Linked DNA regions of Homo sapiens: region 1 is linked to region 2. Evidence: fine-mapped expression QTL. A gene starts in region 2. The other region holds a variant in brackets. All regions are shown on one strand. Distances are from middle to middle. Region 1 overlaps EIF3I (eukaryotic translation initiation factor 3 subunit I). Region 2 holds the start of TXLNA (taxilin alpha).

Region 1 (10,700 bases), 54 kb after region 2:
TCCTTGCCACCACTGAGTATAATGCCCTGTATAATGCTGAGTATAATGCTGAACTCCTAGAACAAAGAAGTAAATCAGATGCAGTCCCTTCCCCCATGGGGAGACAGACTTGCAAACAGCTAGCACCTGAGTCAGATTGTGAATTGTGCCACCATAGAGGTCTCAGCCAAGTGTGGAAGGTGCACTCTCCCAGGGAGGTGGCGTGTACATTAAACCCTGGAGAATAAATGGAGCTTCAAGCAGGAAGGAAAGAACATCCCACAGGCAAAAGGAACAGCAAAGGCAAAGGCACAGAGTTAAGAAAGTATGGAGTCTTCAGAAACCCTTGGGGTGTGGTCTTGGGGACAGAGGACGGGGAATAGATTTTAAACGTCCTTCAGTGTGAGGAGGTAAAGAGTTTTGACTTTCCTCCAGGCAGTAGGGAATCTTTAAAGGGTTATCAATGGCCAGATTTTCCTTCCAACAGCTTTTGCAGTTTATGTTTGGAGAGTGAACCTGAACTAGCCAATAGGCATAGGATGTACATTACTGGACAGAGTCAAGGGATATTTAGGGGTGACTGATAGGATAGAGGGGGTGAGGAAAACACAAAGTCCATGCTGTCTCAGCTTTCATTTGGGTGCTTGGGTTTCTGGGGAGCTGAGATTAGTAGGGATTGGGCCCATTCAGTGTCACTCTTCTTCCTTCCCTAGTCTGGAGAGGTGTTGGTGAATGTTAAGGAGCACTCCCGGCAGATCAACGACATCCAGTTATCCAGGGACATGACCATGTTTGTGACCGCGTCCAAGGACAACACAGCCAAGGTGAGCCTGGGCAGCGGTCTGGCAGGGCTGCTCCCTCCCTCCGGCTGCACAGCTCACCCTGCCCGACTTCCCCCAGGAAAGCTCTTTACAGATTTCCCCCCTGCCTTCTCTCTCCAGCTTTTTGACTCCACAACTCTTGAACATCAGAAGACTTTCCGGACAGAACGTCCTGTCAACTCAGCTGCCCTCTCCCCCAACTATGACCATGTAAGAGAACCCCACCTGCCTTCCTGCTGAAGCCTCAGGAAGCTTCCAAGTTCTAGATGCTTGTCCAGAAGTTGGGCTACAACATTGTGGGGGAAATGATGTCAGGCAGAGAGGAGATGCCCAGAGGAGTGACAAAGCTGGAAGGATTGAATAGCCCCAGGGCAGCCAGCAGGAGGTGGCAGAAGTGTCTGATCATCCCCTACCTTTGGTATCCTCCCATTGAGCCGTGTGAGATGTTAAAAATGTATATGGCAGCAGAAAAACACAAAATGGACTTGGTGTCCATTGGTCCCATCTAGAGTTTCTTCTTCCATTCAGGTGGTCCTGGGCGGTGGTCAGGAAGCCATGGATGTAACCACAACCTCCACCAGGATTGGCAAGTTTGAGGCCAGGTAAAGAAGAAGAGAGCTCTTCCAAATTAAAATCTCATGTGGTGTACCTTTTTTGTTTGTTTTTGTTTTTGAGATGGAGTCTCGCTCTGTCGCCTAGGCTGGAGCGCAGTGGCGTGATCTCTGCTCACTGCAAGCTCTGCCTCCCGGGTTGACGCCATTCTCCTGCCTCAGCGGCCCAGGCGCCCACCACCATGCCTGGCTAATTTTCTTTTTGTATTTTTAGTAGAGACGGGGTTTCACCGTGTTAGCAAGGATGGTCTCGATCTCCTGACCTCGTGATACGCCCGCCTCAGCCTCCCAAAGTGCTGGGATTACAGGCATGAGCCACCGTGCCCAGCCTTTTTTTTTTTTTTTTTTTTTGACACGGAGTCTTGCTCTGTCACCCAGGCTGGAGTGCAATGGCGCGATCTCTGCTCACTGCAACCTCTGCTTCCCGGGTTCAAGCAATTATCCTGCCTCTGCCTCCTGGGTGGCTGGGATTACAGGCACCCATGACCACGCCTGGCTAATTTTTGTATTTTTAGTAGAGACAGGATTTCACCATGTTTGCCAGGCTGGTCTTGAACTCCTGGCCTTAAGTAATCCGCCCACCTTGGCCTTCCAGAGTGCTGGGATTACAGGCATGAGCCACTGTGCCCAGCCTTCATTATATTTCTCTATGTCTAAATTTCCTCTACTGTATAATGAGACAATGACAATATACTTAACATAAAATTATGCAGATTAAATTATTCAGTTAATATTTATTAAGCTCTTTAAGCACTGCCCAGCACATAGTAGGCACTCTATAAGTATTAGTTATGTATTCAGGCAGACATCTGGGTCCAGTCTTCCCCATATAATAAAAAAGTTAAAAAAGTAAGAGACAGGGTCTCACTATGTTGCCCAGGCTGGCCTCGAACTCCTGGGCTCAAGCAATCCTCTGTCCTCAGCCTCCCAAAGTGCTGGGATTACAGGCGTGAACCATGGCACGCAGCCACCAATTTCCATCTTATTTTGTTCACATTCACTTCTTATCTCAATTTTTCTGCTTTATTATTATTATTTTTTGAGACAGGGTCTCACTCTGTTGCCCAGGCTGGAGTGCAGTGGCACCATCTCTGCTCACCGCAACCTCCTGGGCTCAAGCGATCCTTCTACCTCAGCTTCTGAGTAGCTGGGATTACAGGTACATGGCCACCGTCCCTGGCTGCTTTTTGTATTTTTAGTAGAGATGTTGGCCAGGCTGGTCTCAAACTCCTGGCCTCAAGTGATCCACCCGCCTCGGCCTCCCAAAGTGTTGGGATTACAGGCGTGAGCCACTGCGCCTCGGCTTCTGCTTTATTTTTTGTGATACAATTTGCATTTGAGGCCAGGTGTGGTGGCTCATGCCTGTAATCCCAGCACATTGGGAGGCTAAGGAAGGCGGCTTGAGGCCAGGAGTTCGTAACCAGCCTGGCCAACATGGTGAAACCCCATCTCTACTAAAAATACAAAAATTAGCCAGGCATCTGTAATCCCAACCACTCAGGAGGCTGAGGCAGGAGAATTGCTTGAACCCAGGAGGGGGAGGTTCCAGTGAACCGAGATTGCGCCACTGTACTCCACCCTGGGTGACAGAGTAAGACTCCATCTCAAAATAAATAAATAATAATAACAATTTGCATTTGGGGAGTGCCACCTCCAAAGTGTTTTGGAAGAAGATAGAAAGTGAATTAATTGTGTCCCTTTTCCTCCAGGTTCTTCCATTTGGCCTTTGAAGAAGAGTTTGGAAGAGTCAAGGGTCACTTTGGACCTATCAACAGTGTTGCCTTCCATCCTGATGGCAAGAGGTAGGGTACCAGTGAAGCAGCTGACCTAAGCCTGGGTTGGGTCTCTGCCTTTCCCAGAGTAAGCACCTGACTGGTGCCTGGCTATCTTTTTCCAGCTACAGCAGCGGCGGCGAAGATGGTTACGTCCGTATCCATTACTTCGACCCACAGTACTTCGAATTTGAGTTTGAGGCTTAAGAAGCTGGATCTCCTGCCGGGCGTGGTGGCTCATGCCTGTAATCCCACCACTTTTTTTTTAAGGCAGGCGGATCACCTGAGGTCAGGAGTTTAAGACCAGCCTGACCAACATGGAGAAACCTCGTCTCTACTAAAAATACAAAAATTAGCCAGGCATGGTGGCACACGCCTATAGTCCCAGCTACTCAGGAGGCTGAGGCAGGAGAATCACTTGAACCCAGGAGGCAGAGGTTGCAGTGAGCTGAGATCACGTCATTGCACTCCATCCTGAGCCACAAGAGCAAAACTCCGTCTCAAAAAAAAAAAAGAAGAAGGTGGATCTCCAACCAGGCCAGAGAAGATTCTCACAGAAGGTTTTGAACTCTAAGAAATAAATTGGTTTGGTAATAAATGGCTTCTGGTCAGATATTTTGTGGTGTCTGTTTCATCATTTTTCCTTTTCACTGACACCCCAGCAAGCTGATGCTGATCATGGAGACTTTTATTATTGAGACCTCCCTATACTTTGGACACTTCAAACTTAAGACCCTCAGTACTTTTGGCTAACCTGGGTTGCAGGCACCCTCATCCAAGGTGTAAAGGTCCTAAGGGGCCTGCAGAGGTTTCAGGAACATCTCAGCTGCTATCCAAGGAGCCAGTGCTTAGAATAGGGGCTCGGCTGAAGCAGTTGGCTGAGAGGCTTCTGTCTTCTCCCTTCCTGTCACTATTTGCCACACTCTTCCCCCATGCAGCTTCTGCAGGCTCAGGTGAGCAGGTCCAGCGCAGAAACAGGCCTGAGGAGGAGGAAGACAGGTCAGGACGCTGAGCAGAGGGGTAATACCCAGGGGAGAAGGTGTGGAGCTCACCTTGCCACAGCCGCAGGCTCTGGGGCTCCACAGATGGCCAAGGGATTGAGGAGGTAGAGTGGGTTCTGGAGTCTTTGTTGCTCTTTTGGCTGGTTGAGCCCAGACCACAGGGAGTGCATCTGAGTCCTCCCTTCACACGGCATCTGCAGAAAGGCAGGGAGTGAGTTTCCAGCCCCAGGTATGCCCTCTGGGAGTCTGGGTGGGCAGCCCTGGTTAGTAGGGTGACAGCCACTTTGGAGCAGTGATAACCTTTACTTTTCTCCTTTTTCTTGCAAACATTATTGCTAGTCAGATCTTGTACTAGGCACTAGAATAAAAGGGGAACAAGACAAAGTCCTACTTCTTAAGGAGTTCTATTTAAAGGGAGAAACCAATTTAGTTTTGCCTCAATGTCAGAGAAGGCTAATTAAGAATGTGATGTTTGAGCTGAGTCTCAACAGACCTAGCATACCCACTGTGCAAAGCAACAGCCAACATGGGGAGAACGGCATGAGCCAAAGAAAGAAGGCGGGAAAGGGCCCACTGTGAATATTGATAGGTCTGGACCCAGGAGCTTTTGAAAGAAAATTGATAACAATGAAGATGCAGAGAACAGTGAGGCGGCTGCCGGAGAGTCCAGATGGAAGAGACCAGTGTGGATGAAGACGGGGGGAGGGCCTTCTGGCAAGGGAGGACCAAACTCAGACAATTTTAGGAGAAAGACTAAAGATGAAGGATGGGGGAGAGGGAGGTAAATAGAGATGATCCAGGACTAGTGGGGTTAGTGAAGCAGGATGGGGTATAGAGGAAGACTGAGCAACAGAAGATAACTAAATCTGATCTTCACCCTGGAAAGGTGAACCCTCCCTCCCCGCATCTCTCAATCTCATAAGACAGCTGGCATCTGGGACTGATAGGCAGCATATGCAACAAGCCAACCAAATAATAAAAATACCACTTCTTTTATTTACTTATTTATTTATTTATTTATTTAATGGAGTCCCACCCTGTTGCCTAGGCTGGAATGCAATGGCATGATCTCGGCTCACTGCAACCTCTGCTTCCCAGGTGCAAGCAATTCTCATGCCTTAGCTTCCCAAGTGGCTGGGATTACAGGCATGTGCCAACACGCCCGGCTAATTATATTTTTTTGAGATGGAGTCTTGCTCTGACACCTAGGCTGGAGTGCAGTGGTGGGATCTTGGCTTACTGCAACCTCTGACTCCCAGGTTCAAGTGATTCTCCTGCCTCAGCCACCTGAGTAGCTGGGACTACAGGCGGGTGCCAACATGCCCGGCTAATTTTTTGTATTTTTAGTAGGCAGGGGGTTTCACCATGTTAGCCAGGGTGGTCTCGATCTCCTGACCTTGTGATCTGCCCACCTCAGCCTCCCAAAGTGCTGGGATTACAGGTGTGAGCCACCGTGCCAGGCCTAATTTTTTGTATTTTTAGTAGAGATGGGGTTTTACCATGTTGGCCAGGCTGGTCTCAAACTCCTGATCTCAGGTGACCTGCCTGCCTCAGCTCCCAAAGTGCTGGGATTACAGGCGTGAGCCACCGCGCCCGGCCAGATTATGGCTGCTCTTATCCCCTTCATGCTACCGA[T/C]GAGATTGAGACTCAGACGGGTTTGCTATGAACACCCAGCAGGTGAGTGGTGAAACTGGAATTTGAGCCCAAATGATTCCACTCTGCTTTCAACCTCTGTTCTATTGCTTTGAAACAATCGACCTTGCAAAGTGGTAGAGAGCCTTATAAATTATTTTTGCAGCAAATTTCCCCTTTAATCCTTGTTTTCAAGGTAGGGGTTCACTTGCAATTGGCTATGGACAGAGTAGGTCTGTCTAAAGGATTGGCCTTGGACCTATTTATCTCTGGGTTTGCAGAAGTTAGGAGGAAGTATGAGATTTGGAGGTGGGGCAAGGAGAACACTCAGTTTTCCTAAAAGACAAACCCACTTGAATTCGGGAAAGATGGCTCCTAAGGAAGTAAGGTGCTGGCTGGGCGGAGTGACTCACGCTTGTAATCCCAGCACTTTAGGAGGCCGAGGTGGGCAGATCACCTGAGGTCAGGAGTTTGAGATCAGACTGGCCAATATGGTGAAACTCCATCTATACTAAAAGTATAAAAATTAGCCGGACGTGGTGGCACATTCCTGTAATCCCAGCTACTCGGGAGGCTGAGGCTGGAGAATAGCTTGAACCAGGGAGGCAAAGGTTGCAGTGAGCCCAGATCGTGCCACTGCGCTCCAGACCAGGCGACAGGTGACAGAGCGAGACTTCATCTCAAAAAAAAAAAAAAAAAGGAAGTAAGGCACTGATGGCACAGGTATCCAACCCTTTCCTGTGCCTGCCCCTAAGCTACCTCAACACCCCCTCAGCTCACCTCTCCTTTTCGCTGTTGCAGAGGAAGGTGCCAAAAGAGGAGGCATAGGCGTGCCCAAACAGCGCCAACAGTAGCCCTTCCCCAAACTCCAATGACAGTGGGAACCGGCAGCCCAGCTGCCACACGCAGTCCAGGAAGAGGAGAAAGGTGGGTGCCTCATGCTTGGGGTGGGCATGGGAGAAGGCTGAATGGGCACAGCGCAGCTGGAAGGGGTGGCTGGCCTGGGGAGGGGGCAGAGCAATGGGCACGAGGAAGCAAGTTTCTGGATGGAGGGTAAGGCTGGGGTTGGGTGGTCACTTACTTTCCTGGATCCACTTCCACTCCACCAGTTCCTGGAATCCAGCCATGGTCTTGCTCAAGGGGTCCAGGATGAGTTGGGCCAGTGAAGTCACAAGCAGGGTGCTGTCTGTGCCTTCAGCCCCATGTACCAGGCCAGGAATAGAATGGACCCAGTTCTAGGCTATATTTGCTTACTGAATCACAGTTTTGCATCCAGGGGTTGAGAGCCCTGCCCATCTCACCCTATTCTCTATGTCAATGGGGCCTTACCTCTCCATGCCCTGGACTGCCAGGCAGGTGGTGCTCAGTGCCTGCTTTACATGTTACAGTCAGCGGCAGCCGTCCAGCCGACTCAGCCAGTTGTCCATGCTTTGCTCCGAGTCCCCACAGGCCTCCACCAGGCGCATGAAGCTCTCCTGCAGGGGACGCCCTCTGGGCGGTGGGAGTCTGGTCATCTTTTCCAGCTCAAGCCCTTGCCAAGTACAGCCAGGGAGCAAGTGCTCAAGACCAATGAGGGAGACACAGAATCCTGTAAAGAGCCCATCTGATAAAAGGGACACAGAGCCCTTTAGGGAGTCCAGTCTCACGGCACACACGACCCACAGAGGAGTTCCTAATCTTTGAGACAGCGTCTCGTTCTGTCCATGAAATGGTTTTTTTTTTTTTTTGAGACGGAATCTTGCTCTGTCTCCAGGCTGGAGTGCAGTGGTGCGATCTCAGCTCACTGCAACCTCCGCCTCCCGGGTTTAAGTGATTCTTCTGCCTCAGCCTCCAGAGTAGCTGGGACTACAGGCGACCGCCACCACACCCAGCTAGTTTTTGCATTGTTAGGTTTCACCATGTTGGCCAGAATGGTCTCGGACTCCTGACCTTGTGATCCGCCCACCTCGGCCTCCCAAAGTGCTGGGATTACAGGCATGAGCCACCGCGCCCAGCCTAAAATGGTTTCTTAGCTTTGAGGATTCCTCAGTCTGATGGGAGAGACTCAAGACCCTTTGAGAAAGTACCTGGGGAAGGGTCACATAGCCCTCTGGGGAAACACACAATGTCCTGGGAAACCACCAATTTGATGGAAGTATCACAACACCCTTGATGTACACCAGTCTGATGGGAGCAACATAGCATTCCCTGGGGAGCCCCGGTCTGACAAGAAAAACACAGTTCTCTTGGAATTCTGCATCTGCTCCTACCTCCCAGAAACTGCTCTGTTCAAGGTTACTGGTGACCTCCTGCCAGAAAATCTAACAGCGACTTCTCAGCTCTGTTTAAAAGCCTTCAGTGGCTGCCCACTGCCTTGAGGATAAAGTCTAAGCTTATCTGTAGCCTCATCTGTCCTCCCATTTCATACTCGACACTCCCACCATACCAAAGGACATTAGTTGACCCCATCCATGGTTTCACTTTCTGAGGTTTCAGTTACCCATGGTCAACTGTGGCCTGAAAATATTAAATGGAAAATTCCAGAAATAAACAATTCATAAGTTTTAAATTGTAAGCCCTTCTGAATGTTGTGACGAAATCTTGAGTCACCCTGCTCTGTCTCGCTGGATAGGAGTCATCCCTTTGTCCAGCATATCCATGCTGCACACACTGTCTGCCCATTAGTCACTTAGTAGCTGTCTTGGTTATCAGAGTGACTGTGGCAGTACTGCAGTGGGCTTGTGTTCAAGGTCAGTAGGAGCCTAAGGCTGCATTACAAGGCCTATGTCATTCACCACATCTCATCACATGGGCATTTAAGCATCTCACATCATCACAAGAAGGGTGAGTATAGTACAATAAGATATTTTAAGAAAGAGATCACATTCATACAACTGTTTATTTTTTTTAGATTGAGTCTCACTCTAGGTCACCCAGGCTGGAGTGCAGTGGCGCAATCTCAGCTCACTGCAACCTCTGCCTCCTGGGTTCAAGCGATTCTCCTGCCTCAGCCTCCTGAGTAGCTGGGACTACAGGAGCCCGTCACCACACCTGGCTAATTTTTTTTGTATTTTTAGTAGAGACAGGGTTTCACCATGTTAGCCAGGATGGTCTCGATCTCCTGACCTCGTGACCCACCTAGCTCGGCCTCCCAAAGTGCTGGGATTACAGGCGTGAGCTACCATGCCCGGCCTCATACAACTTTTTTTTTTTGGAGTTTCACTCTTGTTGCCCAAGCTGGAGTGTAATGGCGTGATCTCGGCTCACTGCAACCTCCACCTCCCAGTTTCAAGCGATTCTCCTGCCTCAGCCTCCCAAATAGCTGGGATTACAGGCCCGCACCACACCTGGCTAATTTTTTGTATTTTTAGTAGAAGTGGGGTTTCACCATGTTAGCCAGGCTAGTCTCGAACTCCTGACCTCAGGTGATCCACCCGCCTTGGTCTCCCAAAGTGCCAGGATTACAGGCATGAGCCACCGCACCCGGCCATTTTTTTTTTGTTTTTTTTTTTGAGACAGGGTCTCATTCTGTCAGCCAGCCTCGAGTGCAGTGGTGTGATTACAGTTCACTGCAGCCTCCACCTCCCGGGGCTCCAGTGATCTCCCACCTCAGCCTCTTGAGTAGCTGGGCCTACAGGAGCACACCACCATGCCTGGCTAATTTTGGGACAGGATCTTGCTCTCACCCAGGCTGGAGTGCAGTGGCACAATTACAGCTCACTGCAACCTCTGCCTCCCAGGCTCAAGCCATCCACCTCAGCCTCTTGAGAAGCTGGGACTACAGGTGTGCACCACCACATGTAGCTAATTTTTTTTTTTTTTTTTTTTTGAGATGGAGTTTCATTCTTGTTGCCTAGGCTGGAGTGCAATGGTGCTATCTCAGCTCACTGCAACCTCTGCCTTTCAGGTTCAAGCGATTCTCCTGCCTCAGTCTCCTGAGTAGCTGGGATTAAAGGCATGTGCCATCACGCCCGGCTAATTTTGTATTTTTAGTAGAGACGGCGTTTCTCCATGTTGGTCAGGCTGGTCTCAAACTCCTGACCTCAGGTGATCTTCCCGCCTCAGCCTCCCAAAATGCTGGGATTACCAGCATGAGCCACCACACCCAGCCAATTTTTGTATTTTGTACAGAGACAGGGTCTCCCTATGTTGCCCAGGCTGGTCTCAAACTCTTGGGCTCAAGGGATCCACCCTCCTCAGCCTGCCAAAGTGCTGAGATGACAGGCATAAGTCACTGTGCCCAGCCACAATCTTCTAAATCTCCAAAAATACCTATCTTTTACCTCAGCACCTGACCTATACAACTTTTATTATAGCATATTATTGTAATTGTTCTACTTTATTATTAGTTATTGTTGTGCTTACTGTATAAATTAAACTTGGCTGGATGCAGTGGCTCACGCTTGTAATCCTAGTACTTTGGGAGACTGAAGCAGGTGGATTGCCCGAGCTCAGGAGTTCAAGACCACCCTGAGTGACATGATGAAACCCCATCTCTGCTAAAATACAAAAAAAAGGCTGGGCGTGGTGGCTCATGCCTGTAATCCCAACACTTTGGGAGGCTGAGATGGGCAGACCACTTGAGGTGAGGAGTTCCAGACTAGCCTGGCCAACATGGCAAAACCCCATCTCTGCTAAAAATACAAAAATTAGCCGGGCCTGGTGGCACGCGCCTGTAGTCCCAGCTACTCAGGAGACTGAGGCGAGAGAATCACTTGAACCCGGGGAATGGAGGTTGCAGTGAGCCAAGATCACACCACTGCACTCCAGACTGGGCAACAAAGAGAGATTCTATCTCAAAAATAATAATAATAAAATAAAATACAAAAAAAAAATTAGCTGGGCATGGTGGCAGGCTCCTGTAGTCCCAACTACTTGGGAGGCTGAGGTATGAGAATTGCTTGC
Region 2 (10,700 bases):
TAGTAATATCATCTTTTCTATCTCCTCCTCTCCTTTGGCCATGTAATGAAGCAAAATATTATTTATTTAGCCCAGGCTTGAGAGCCACTGTTTGTGGACAGTCTTCATCTAGATTCCATACCCTGGCCTAGGCGAGGTAAGGCTCTCTGGTTATTGCCAGGATGGAGCCCCTCTACCCCAGTCTGCTGTAGGGAATACCCTAATTAGTTGAGGCATGCTTTTGGAATCCTGGCATGTTGGCATATGGCTGGTCTATCCTTTTTAAGATCTCTGGTTGGGGGTATCTGGATATGGATTAGGAGGGACAAGGAGCCTTTTTCTTGGCTAATGTTTTCCAATACTTTTTTGAATGGTGCCAGCCCCTCCAGGCATCCCACCCCCAAATCATCATCTTTAGTACTAACAGGGTGTCTGGTCTTAGAAGCCTCCCTTCAGATCCCAGCTGACCCTGGTGACTGCCTGGCCTTGATGTTGGCTGCAGCCTTCTGATAGAACCACATGGATTCCACCCACAGCTGGCCAGGCTTGTTACATGGGTCAGGGAATACAAATGGCCCCCCCCCAGGGAGCAGGTGTTGGCCTCAGTTTTCAGGGACCCTTGGTGTTGCTCCTTACCTAGAGCCCATTAATCTACCCCATCAACTCTCTGCCATGAAAGCCATCTTCCAGGAGCCCTGTTTTTTGGAGCTGAACTGCACAGATTATAGCTGCTATTGTACTTAAATAAGGGAGAGGAAAAGAAGGTTCTCAGGCACAGACTTTCTATTTTTCTCAAGCCAAACCAGTTTAAAATGTCTAGCAGAATGAACTGTATTTCCATTTCTTCATGTCTACCTGCCTTCCCCCCACACCCTAAAGTTGTACTTGTTTCTAGCAAACTAGAAGGAAAAGATAGGAAAGCCTGGCACTACTAACCTCACCTCTCATACACCTCTTTGAAGGCCCCAGCTCTTTTGTTCAGGCCTCTCTTCTCCCCTAGACTCACTCAGCTTGGTATCCATCATCTTGAGCATTCTTCAGTAGATTCATCTAGGGTTCAGATTCCAGACTCTCAGCTGAAGACAGGGAGCCAATTTCCCCCAGGTCCCTGCAGGTAATCCAGGGACCCCATAGGGAGAACAGGCTGACTGGGGCATTAGGAATGTTTGTACCTCTCTGCTTCCCTGGCAGCCTGGGGAAGGGTGCAGGGCTCAGTGCGCTAAACCATGGTAAACATCTTCAATAGAACTACCCTAGAATTTAGTGAGTGTGAGACTGAGATATTGCTCAGAATAAATTTATTCCATAGCCATTTAGGATTGCATGTTCTGGACCAACCTTGTCCAGTATGTTTTCTGTTTGAGCTTTTTCATTCTTTTGTTAAGCCAACAAGTTGAGAATTTGGCCCTGCTGGGATCCATGTAGTGGGCACTAGCTGCTCTTTGGCCAAGGCCTTCATAAATGATTCAGTCTCTCATTATCTGTCCTCTAGCCCCACACCCTGATTTAGACCGTGGCAAAGGAAGAACTTGAGGTCAAGACCAACCAAATCTGTGAATTAAAGCTGTTATTTTTTTCTCTGCAAGGGCGCTTTGCTTCAGGTCTGGGCTATGTGCAGAACCTAAGCAGGCTGTGAGAGTTAGAAGAGGCAGTATTACATGTTAGGCCCAGAACACCATGGGAAAAGGTTTATGTAGTGTATCTTAGTGGCCTGCCTAGCTGCCTCTGGGCCAGGCTGACTTCTGATGTCCACATTAGCTCGTACCTGAACCCTGTTGCTGAATGCCAGCCCTGTTCTCCTGTAACTATTATATACGCCATGGCCTGGGGGGCATTGAAGGAAGTAAGCTCTCAGAGATCCTAACACTGGCTGGGAACCTCTGACTCAGAGCATGTCTTTAAAGAGTCCACATCTGGCCAGGCGCGGTGGCACATGCCTGTAATCCCAGCACTTTGGGAGGCCGAGGCGGGTGGATCACGAGGTCAGGAGTTTGAGACCAGCCTGGCAACATAGTGAAACCCCATCTCTAATAAAAATACAAAAAATTAGCTGGGCGTGGTGGCAGGCGCCTGTAATCCCAGCTACTTGGGAGGCTGAGACAGGAGAATCACTTGAACCCAGGAGGCGGAGGTTGCAGTGAGCCAAGATCATGCCACTGCACTCCAGCTTGGGTGACAGTGCGAGACTCCATCTCAAAAAAAAAAAAAAAAAAAAAATCCACATCTTCAGCTGGGCGCGGTGGCTCATGCCTGTAATCCTAGCACTTTGGGAGGCTGAGGCGGGCAGATCACTTGAGGTTAGGGGTTCAAAACCAGCCTGACCAACATAGTAAAACCCCGTCCCTACAAAAATAAAAAAATAAAAAAAATAAGCCAGGTGTGGTGGTGGGCACCTGTGATCTCAGCTACGTGGGAGGCTGAGGCAGGAGAATCTCTTGAACCTAGGAGGCAGAGGTTGCAGTGAGCCAAGATTGTGCCAGCCTGGGCGACAGGGTGAGGCTCTTGTCTCAAAAAAAAAAGTCCACATCTTCATGAACCCTCAGACTCTGGAGTTGGGTGTCGGCTTTTTTAGCCAGCTTTTGTGGGAATTGCCTTTGACCTATTAAAGAAGGAAAGTGGGTAATGGAGTCCCAGCCACTCAAGAGACTGGATATCCCCCGAGAATGGCTTGGGTTACCAGCTATGGACCCTTGGAAGATGAATCTAATCCTTCTCACTGGTTTTTCTTTGCAAATTCATTTGCTTTTATTTTTCTAATAACAATAAACTCTATTTTCCATGTTCTCAGGGCCCCTGGGTAGACAGACACAGCTTGATTTCAGAGCAGACATAGGCGAAGAAAACATGGCATTGAGTGTGCTGAGTCCAGACAAATGTTATTTATATACACATCCAAATTTGAAGAGAAAATGTATTTCTTTAGGTTTCAAACACTGTAATAGATATAAAGCAAAAATAAAAACCTGTTGCAAAGTTCTAAATTGTCTTCTTTGGCTTGGAGTGACCCTAGACTGGATTTGGGGGAAGAGAATGAGGAGGTGTTTAAATTTGTAGCTTAACAGTGGAAATAAGAGTTGTACCAACCTGCACCTGCTCTAAAGTTTTTTTCATCGACTTTATTGAAATATAATTGACATACAATAAACTGTACATATTTAAAGTATATACACGTTGATAAATTGAAACACATATGCACCCATAAAACAACCACAAGATAGTGAATATATCTATGACCTTCATAAGCCGTAAGCTTCCCGCTTGAGAATCCCTCCTTTCTGCCCCACCTCCAGCAACCACTGATCTGTGGCTGTCACTGTAGTTTAGTTTGCATTTTCTAGAGTTTCTCTAAATGATTTTGACTTAGTTTCATCAGCACCACTCTACAGCCCTTTGAACCTTTTTTTTTTTTTTGAAACGGAGTTTTTTATTCTTGGCATCCAGGCTGGAGTACAATGGCGTGATCTCGGTTCACTGCAACCTCTGCCTCCTGGGTTCAAGCGATTCTCCTGCCTCAGCCTCCCAAATAGCTGGGATTACAGGTGCCCGCCACCACGCCCAGCTAATTTTTGTATTTTTAGTAGAGACGGGGTTTCACGTTGGCCAGGCTGGTCTTGAACTCTTGACCTCAGGTGATCCGCCTGCCTCCGCCTCCCAAAGTGCTGGGATTACAGGCATGAGCCATCGTGCCCAGCCTGAACCTCTTAAGATCAAATAGTTCACAGACTCCTCCCTTCAGTTTAGATAATTCCTAAAGCAGAGATTACAGACAAGCAGCCAGAAAGTTGATTGAACCCACAGGAAGGTTTTGCTTGGCAGAGCGTGTTTAAGTTTGAATTAGTTGCCAACATTTTTTTTTTAAATCAAATGTCTGTCTTGAAAAAGACTGTCCTGAAGTCTCCATTTTTAAAAAGAGGCCAAGCACTGTGGCTCATGCCTGTAATCCCAACCCTTTGGGAGGCCAAGGTAGGAGGATCACTTGAGGCCAGGAGTTCAAGACCAGCCTGGGCAGCAAAGTGAGATCTGTCTCTACAAAAAAATTTAAAAGTTAGCTGGCTGTGGTGGCACATACCTGTAATCCTAGCTACTTGGGAGGCTGGGGCAAGGGGATCACTTGAGTCCAGGTGGTCGAGTCTGCAGTGAGCTATTATGATCACTGCACTCCAGCCCCAGCAGCTGAGTAAAACCTGTCTAAAAAACAAAAATACAATCTGGCCCTACCCGGCCTGAGTTTCTGCTTGCTAACAATGTGCAAGAGCTGCTGTATTTTACTGCAATCACCACCTCTCCCTCACTCTGGCAGGTGCTAATATTGTTGCTATATATTGTTTATAGCAAAGGAGAAAGTAACTTGTTAACCTATGTTTCTGTCAATTATTCTTGCCTGTTCTCATTACCCAACTGGCCCCTCTAGGCTATTGTTGACCCTTCTACTACATCCTCTATCCCTCACCCCATGCATACATTTTTATGTTCTTTATCTCACCTAGAACACCCTTGTTATATGGAAATCTATCAAGGCCTGATTTATATGGTGCCTTCTCAAGAGATTTCCAGAATGCTTTTCTAGAAATAATCAGGGCCTTGGTTTCAGGACATCTAGATTCCAACCTTTCTGAGCCTCAGTTCCATCATTATACTAAAAATTGAATATCTCTTATCCAACATGCTTGGGACCAGAAGTGTTTCCAATTTGGGATTTTCTCAAATTTTACCGGTTGAGCTTCCCCAATCTGAAAATCTGAAATCCAACATGCACGGCTCTGAAGTCTTTCACTGAGCCTTTGGGGGAAATATTTAACATCCTAACAGCCCTAAACCAACGCTCAATTAGCACAACAGTTTACAATCTTCTCTACCCACAGCCTGATGCGAGGCTCTGGGACTAGACTATTTAGCCAACAGTTCTTGCAAAATTAACTGACTTATAAGTAAATAGTAATTTCAACACCTCACTGCTAATGCTGTAACAACTCTGCAGACCTAGGGAGCAAGTACGGTTTGCAGAGCACTGGGAAGGCTCTGAAGTGACCTTTGAACTGGGCCTCAAAAAATTTTGGGTTTGGCAAAAGTCAAATCTCTTAGGCTTCAAATTCCAGGCACAAGGATTGTTGGGTTTGATTTCATTATCCAGAAGCAATGGGGATACAGAATTGTGATCTCATGTGTAGGGAACTGTGGGGGTTTTTTCTACTTTAACCCCAGTGAGACTTTGTAGAGTGTGGGGTAGAGAAAAGGCTCATGAATATGCCTGAAGCCTAACTCAGCACCTTTCTGAGGAACTGACTGCCAAAATGGTAATGGAGAGGGGAAAATATGACCTACTTTCACAAGTTACCTTGACTGCCTCAGGGAAACCTGCTGTGGTAGTGTTTCTTCTGGGTGAAAGACCAGGTAATTACCTGGGTGCTGGTCTCAGACTTACCAGTTTTGAATCCCTGTTTTAACCACTCACTATCGATATGACCTTGGATAAGTTACCTAACCTTTCTCTTACTGTCCTTTTCCGTAAAATGGGGATAACAGATAGTAGTTATTTCTATGAGTGGTTATGAGAACCAAGCTATTAGATAGCGGGAAAGCACACAGTAAGCGTTCAAGGAACTGCTATTGTTATTAAAAGCCTCCTTTGGAAGAAGGACATTGAGGCCCAGAGAGAGAACAGAACGTCCAGCCACACAGCAAATCCGTGATGAAGTTGGGACTGGAGTATGGGTCTCCTGAGTCTCAGCCCAGGACTCTATCCCTCTTCCCGAGTCCTCGGAGTTCCCGGATGGAGTCACATTTGTTCACGGCCAGGGAGGAAGGTTTGATGGAGGCCTGCAGGAAACAACAGCCAGGCGCAAGGCTTTGGGAGTTGAAGCATAGCTTCTGCGAGATAGAAACAAGGTTGACATGGGCACTCGTGCAGAATGACGGGCTCCTTTTGGACTCCCAGGACTACAGTCCCTTATGCACCTTGGGATCTGCGGCTAGCCCCTGCGTAAAGAGGGACGCGTAGTCTTTTCCCTGCCCCGCCCTGCCGGGGCGCCCGCCTCCGAGGCCGCCCTCGCTTCGTCCTTCCCAGCAAGCTCCGCGCCGGCGCCGGCTATTGATTGGCTGAGGCGGGAGCAGGCGGCTGGCCGGCAGCAGTTACTCGGGGTTTCCGGTGCGAGGCCAGAGGTGGGGAAGCCATCGGACGTCGGCGGTGAGGTACGTGCAGCGGCGGCCGGTGGGCGAGACTATTTGAGAGTGTGCGGGCCGGGATGTTCTCGGCCTGTGGGGAAATCACGCCAACTCCCCGCGTGGGCCGGGGGCTGTCTGGGGATATGCGCATGCGCGGGCGTGCCTCGCGGCTTGAGGGCGCGCGGGGCGTGGGTGGCTGCGCGCGCGGGGGGCGCACGTGGGGCCTGAGGGGCGGGGGCGGTGCCGGGAGTCCCGCCACGTCAGTCTCCGGCCCTGAGCCAATCCCGCGCCCGGCCTGCCGCGAGGGGGCCGGTTGTGCCGGGAAGTGGCTCCAGGGAGAAGAGGCCTCTTCCCTCACCCGCTGTGGGAGCTGCGCCCCGAAAGCCTGCCCCGGCACGTCGGGCTCTCCTGACCCGCCAAGACCAGAGAGCCGTTGGCGCCCTCCGCCCGGGCCTGCCGGTCCGTTTATTTTAAGAAGCTTTGTGCGCCTGCTGTGGGGATTTCTGATCCAGGCTGCGAAGAATTTCGAAGTCTGGAAAATAGCAACTGTGTTTGTTTCTAAAGGATCTTCTCCTGACCCAGCATCGCTCATCACAATGAAGAACCAAGACAAAAAGAACGGGGCTGCCAAACAATCCAATCCAAAAAGCAGCCCAGGACAACCGGAAGCAGGACCCGAGGGAGCCCAGGAGCGGCCCAGCCAGGCGGCTCCTGCAGTAGAAGCAGAAGGTCCCGGCAGCAGCCAGGCTCCTCGGAAGCCGGAGGGTGTGTGCCAGCTCTGCGTTGCCAGCGGGCAGGGGGAGGAGCTGTGGGGTCGGCCTCGCTTCTGGACTTACAGGCCGAGGCCAGGTTGTCCGGGAGGAGGAGATGTAGAATGAGAGGACAGTGCTGGGGGCCGCGGTCCCCCCTGCGCTCTGGCGAGTTGGCGGAGCTGCCCCCTCTAAGCACAGGAACAGAGTTCTGGAGAGAAGCTCCGACGGGATTAAGTCAGGTGGCAGCCAAACGAGGCACCCAGTCAGGAAATCCAGGTCCCGTTAGAAACACCTCAGCCACCAGCAGCTAACTGCCCTTCCTGTTTGAGGCATTTCTAGAATGATCTGAATGGCAAGAAATGGTTTTGTGGGGGGGAAGGAGATGGACTAGAAGTTGCTCCGTGCCATCCCTGTGTGCTGATGCTTTACATACTTTTATGATCTAACAAATATGTTCGGGTGGTAGTGAGAAATAGTTGTGTCATTTTACAAGTAAACAGACTTAAAGAAGTTAGGCAACGATTACTATAATTTCTTGATTTAAAAGATGTTTCGAATCTAAATTCTGACAGGAACTAGATTTGCTGAATGATACTCCATTCTTGCTTCTCAGTTTCCATAAAAAAAAAAGTTAGGCAACATTTAACTCAAACTGATGAGTTTGGCTGGGCCTGAAAAATCCCAACCAGTGGTATAATCGTCTTCTTTCTCACTCTACCCCTCATCCTCTCCTGCTGTAGGGGCTCAAGCCAGAACGGCTCAGTCTGGGGCCCTTCGTGATGTCTCTGAGGAGCTGAGCCGCCAACTGGAAGACATACTGAGCACATACTGTGTGGACAATAACCAGGGGGGCCCCGGCGAGGATGGGGCACAGGGTGAGCCGGCTGAACCCGAAGATGCAGAGAAGTCCCGGACCTATGTGGCAAGGAATGGGGAGCCTGAACCAACTCCAGTAGTCAATGGAGAGAAGGAACCCTCCAAGGGGGATCCAAACACAGAAGAGATCCGGCAGAGTGACGAGGTCGGAGACCGAGACCATCGAAGGCCACAGGAGAAGAAAAAAGCCAAGGGTTTGGGTGAGCAGAGGGCGGCTCTTTGTGAAGCTGGTGAGGAGAGGGAGTTTGGACTTGACGTTCTCTGGGCCAGTCTGTTCTGCCAGGATTCAAAGGAAAACGGTACTTCTCAGAGCAGCAAGTCACTCTAGTCTAATCAAAGCCAGGGATGTGGGGGCCACGGCATAGAGAGATGCAGGAGTTACCAGCACAAAGCCTTCTGGGTTTTGGAGCAACTGGAGCTTGGCATGGGACCTGTTCTCTCTTTGAGAAAATGGAGACGGGAGGCTAGGGTAGGCTCCTGTGCCAGCCAGTACTACCTGCTGTGTGACCTTGGGTGTGTCCCTTCTCCTCTCTGGGTCTTAGTTTATATTTCTCTTTACAGTAAGAAAATTAGACTAGGCCAGAGTTGAAAACCCAAATATCTGCATAAGCTGGGCTGGCCATGGGGCCACCTGAAGATGGAGGCTTTACTGCTTCCTGATTAGTTGCTCTCAGCTAGCCAACTGAGAGCAGGCAAAACTACAGGCTGGGTGCAGTCAGGCTTTTTTTTTTTTTTTTTTTTTTTAAATAAAGAAAAGCCAGAAATCTAGAGTTATGTGAGAACTCTAGATTTTTTCATAGTTAGCAGCTAAAATGGTAAGAGCCAAACAAAACCCATCCGTGGGTTGGATTTGGCACACATGCCTGCGAATTGCAGTCTCCATGCTGATCTCTTGGGCCCTTCTGGGGAGGCAGAGGGAAGGCTCCCTGACTCAGTCACAGGCAATGGGGAATAGGCAGTGACAGTCATTTTACAGCAGGGTATGTATGTTTAAGAGTCTAGGCCGGGTGTGGTGGCTCACGCCTGTAATTGCAGCACTTTGGGAGGCCGAGGCGGGTGGATCACCTGAGGGTCAGGAGTTCGAGAACAGCCTGGCCAACATGATGAAATCCCGTCTCTACTAAAAATACAAAAATTAGCTGGACATGCTGGCACACGCCTGTAATCCCAGCTACTTGGGAGGCTGAGGCAGGAGAATGGCTTGAACCCGGGAGGCAGAGGTTGCAGTGAACTGAGATTGTGCCACTACATCCAGCCTGGGTGACAAGAGTGAAACTCTGTCTCAAAAAAAAAAAAAAAGAATCTAGAATCTAAGTCGAGTGTCATTATATCCATGTTTTATTCCTATTCCCTTTTCCCCTTATGTATCCTCTTACTTTAAAGAGGAACTTTAAAAAATCTTAGGGACGACTAGGCAGAGTGGCTCACACCTGTAACTCCAGCACTTTGGGAGGCCAAGGCAGGCAGATTATGAGGTCAGGAGTTCGAGACCAGCCTGGCCAACATGGTGAAACCCCAGTTCTACTAAAGATACAAAAAATCAGCCGGGCGTGGTGGCACGTGCCTATAATCCCAGATACTCGGGAGGCTGAGGCAGGAGAATCACTTGAACCCGTGAGGCAGAGTTTTCAGTGAGCTGAGATCATGCCATTGCACTCCAGCCTGGGTGACAGGGTGAGACTCCATCTCAAAAAAAGAAAAAGGAAAAAATCTTAACGTCACATACATGGAAAGTATCATCTTCTTCACCCCCCACCCCCAACTGAGATGGAGTCTTGCTCTGTCACCCAAGCTGGAGTGCACTGGCGCGATCTCAGCTCCCTGCAAGCTCCGCCTCCCGGGTTCACACCATTCTCCTGCCTCAGCCTCCCGAGTAGCTGGGACTACAGGCGCCTGCCACCATGCCCGGCTAATTTTTGTATTTTTTTAGTAGTGACAGGGTTTCACTGTGTTAGCCAGGATAGTCTCGATCTCCTGACCTCATGATCCGCCCACCTGGGCCTCCCAAAGTGCTGGGATTACAGGCGTGGGCCACCGTACCCTGCCTTTTTTTTTTTTTTTTTTTTTTGAGATGGAGCCTCGCTCTGTCCCTAGGTTGGAGTGCAGTGGCGCGATCTCGGCTCACTGCAAGCTCCACCTCCTGGGTTCACGCCATTCTCCTGCCTCAGCCTCCCGAGTAGCTGGGACTACAGGCTCCTGCTACCATGCCCGGCTAATTTTTTTGTATTTTTTTTAGTAGAGACGGGGTTTCACTGTGTTAGCCAGGATGGTTTTGATCTCCTGACCTCGTGATCCGCCCGCCTCAGCCTCCCAAAGTGCTGGGATTACAGGCGTAAGCCACTGTACCCTGCCTTTTTTTTTTAATTAATTAATTTTTTTAGACAGAGTCTCGCTCTGTCACCAAGCTGGAGTGCAGTGGCGCGATCTGGGCTCACTGCAACCTCCGCCTCCTGGGTTCAAGCGATTCTCCTACCTCAGCCTCCGGAGTAACTGGGACTACAGGCGCGTGCCACCACACCAAGCTAATTTTTTTGTGTATGTCTTTAGTAGAGATGGGGTTTCACCATGTTAGGATGGTCTCGATCTCTTGACCTCGTGATCCGCCTGCCTCGGCCTCCCAAAGTGCTGGGATTACAGGCATGAGCCACCTTGCCTGGCCGAAAGTATCTTCATTTTAAAGTTCACTGTTTGGCTACTCTGTTGACAAGAGTTTAGTATTTCTCAAGGAGGCTAAGATACCTATTCCTTTTTGGATCCTACCTCTATCAGGAGGGTGGGCCTTCCTTGCATTGAAACAGTATGAAACAGTAGCCCTGAATTCATAAGTGGGACACCTTTCTTCTATTGGTAGAGCAGGCAGTTTTTTTCTCCTGCCAATGGTGCCTACTAAGGAGATTTCACTAGGGTACAGTCGTTCATTTGATAAGCATT

What was found. PIP is the estimated chance that this variant, and not a neighbour inherited with it, causes the effect. A credible set is the group of variants that fine-mapping cannot tell apart.
Region 1: its variant is the best candidate, but not a certain one, in a credible set for the expression of TXLNA in whole blood (TOPMed, PIP 0.86).

The regions. Positions count from the first base shown.
Region 1 is chr1:32,227,807-32,238,506 of GRCh38, forward strand. EIF3I (eukaryotic translation initiation factor 3 subunit I) reads left to right here. Exons shown (of 11, transcript NM_003757.4): 7 at 693-803; 8 at 921-1,010; 9 at 1,329-1,402; 10 at 3,121-3,213; 11 at 3,309-3,798. The coding sequence ends at 3,390. It also overlaps the pseudogene MTMR9LP. Among named protein-coding and RNA genes, the nearest start is that of EIF3I, 11 kb to the left of the region's middle. RefSeq lists an enhancer at 4,963-5,463. The variant T/C (reference allele first, on the strand shown) is at 5,820.
Region 2 is chr1:32,173,609-32,184,308 of GRCh38, forward strand. TXLNA (taxilin alpha) reads left to right here and starts at 6,067. Exons shown (of 11, transcript NM_175852.4): 1 at 6,067-6,168; 2 at 6,706-6,906; 3 at 7,634-7,969. The coding sequence starts at 6,738. It overlaps KPNA6 (karyopherin subunit alpha 6), which reads left to right. Exons shown (of 14, transcript NM_012316.5): 14 at 1-2,955. RefSeq lists enhancers at 5,245-6,004, 6,005-6,763, 6,651-6,730, 6,851-7,010, 7,021-7,070 and silencers at 5,941-6,130, 6,271-6,450.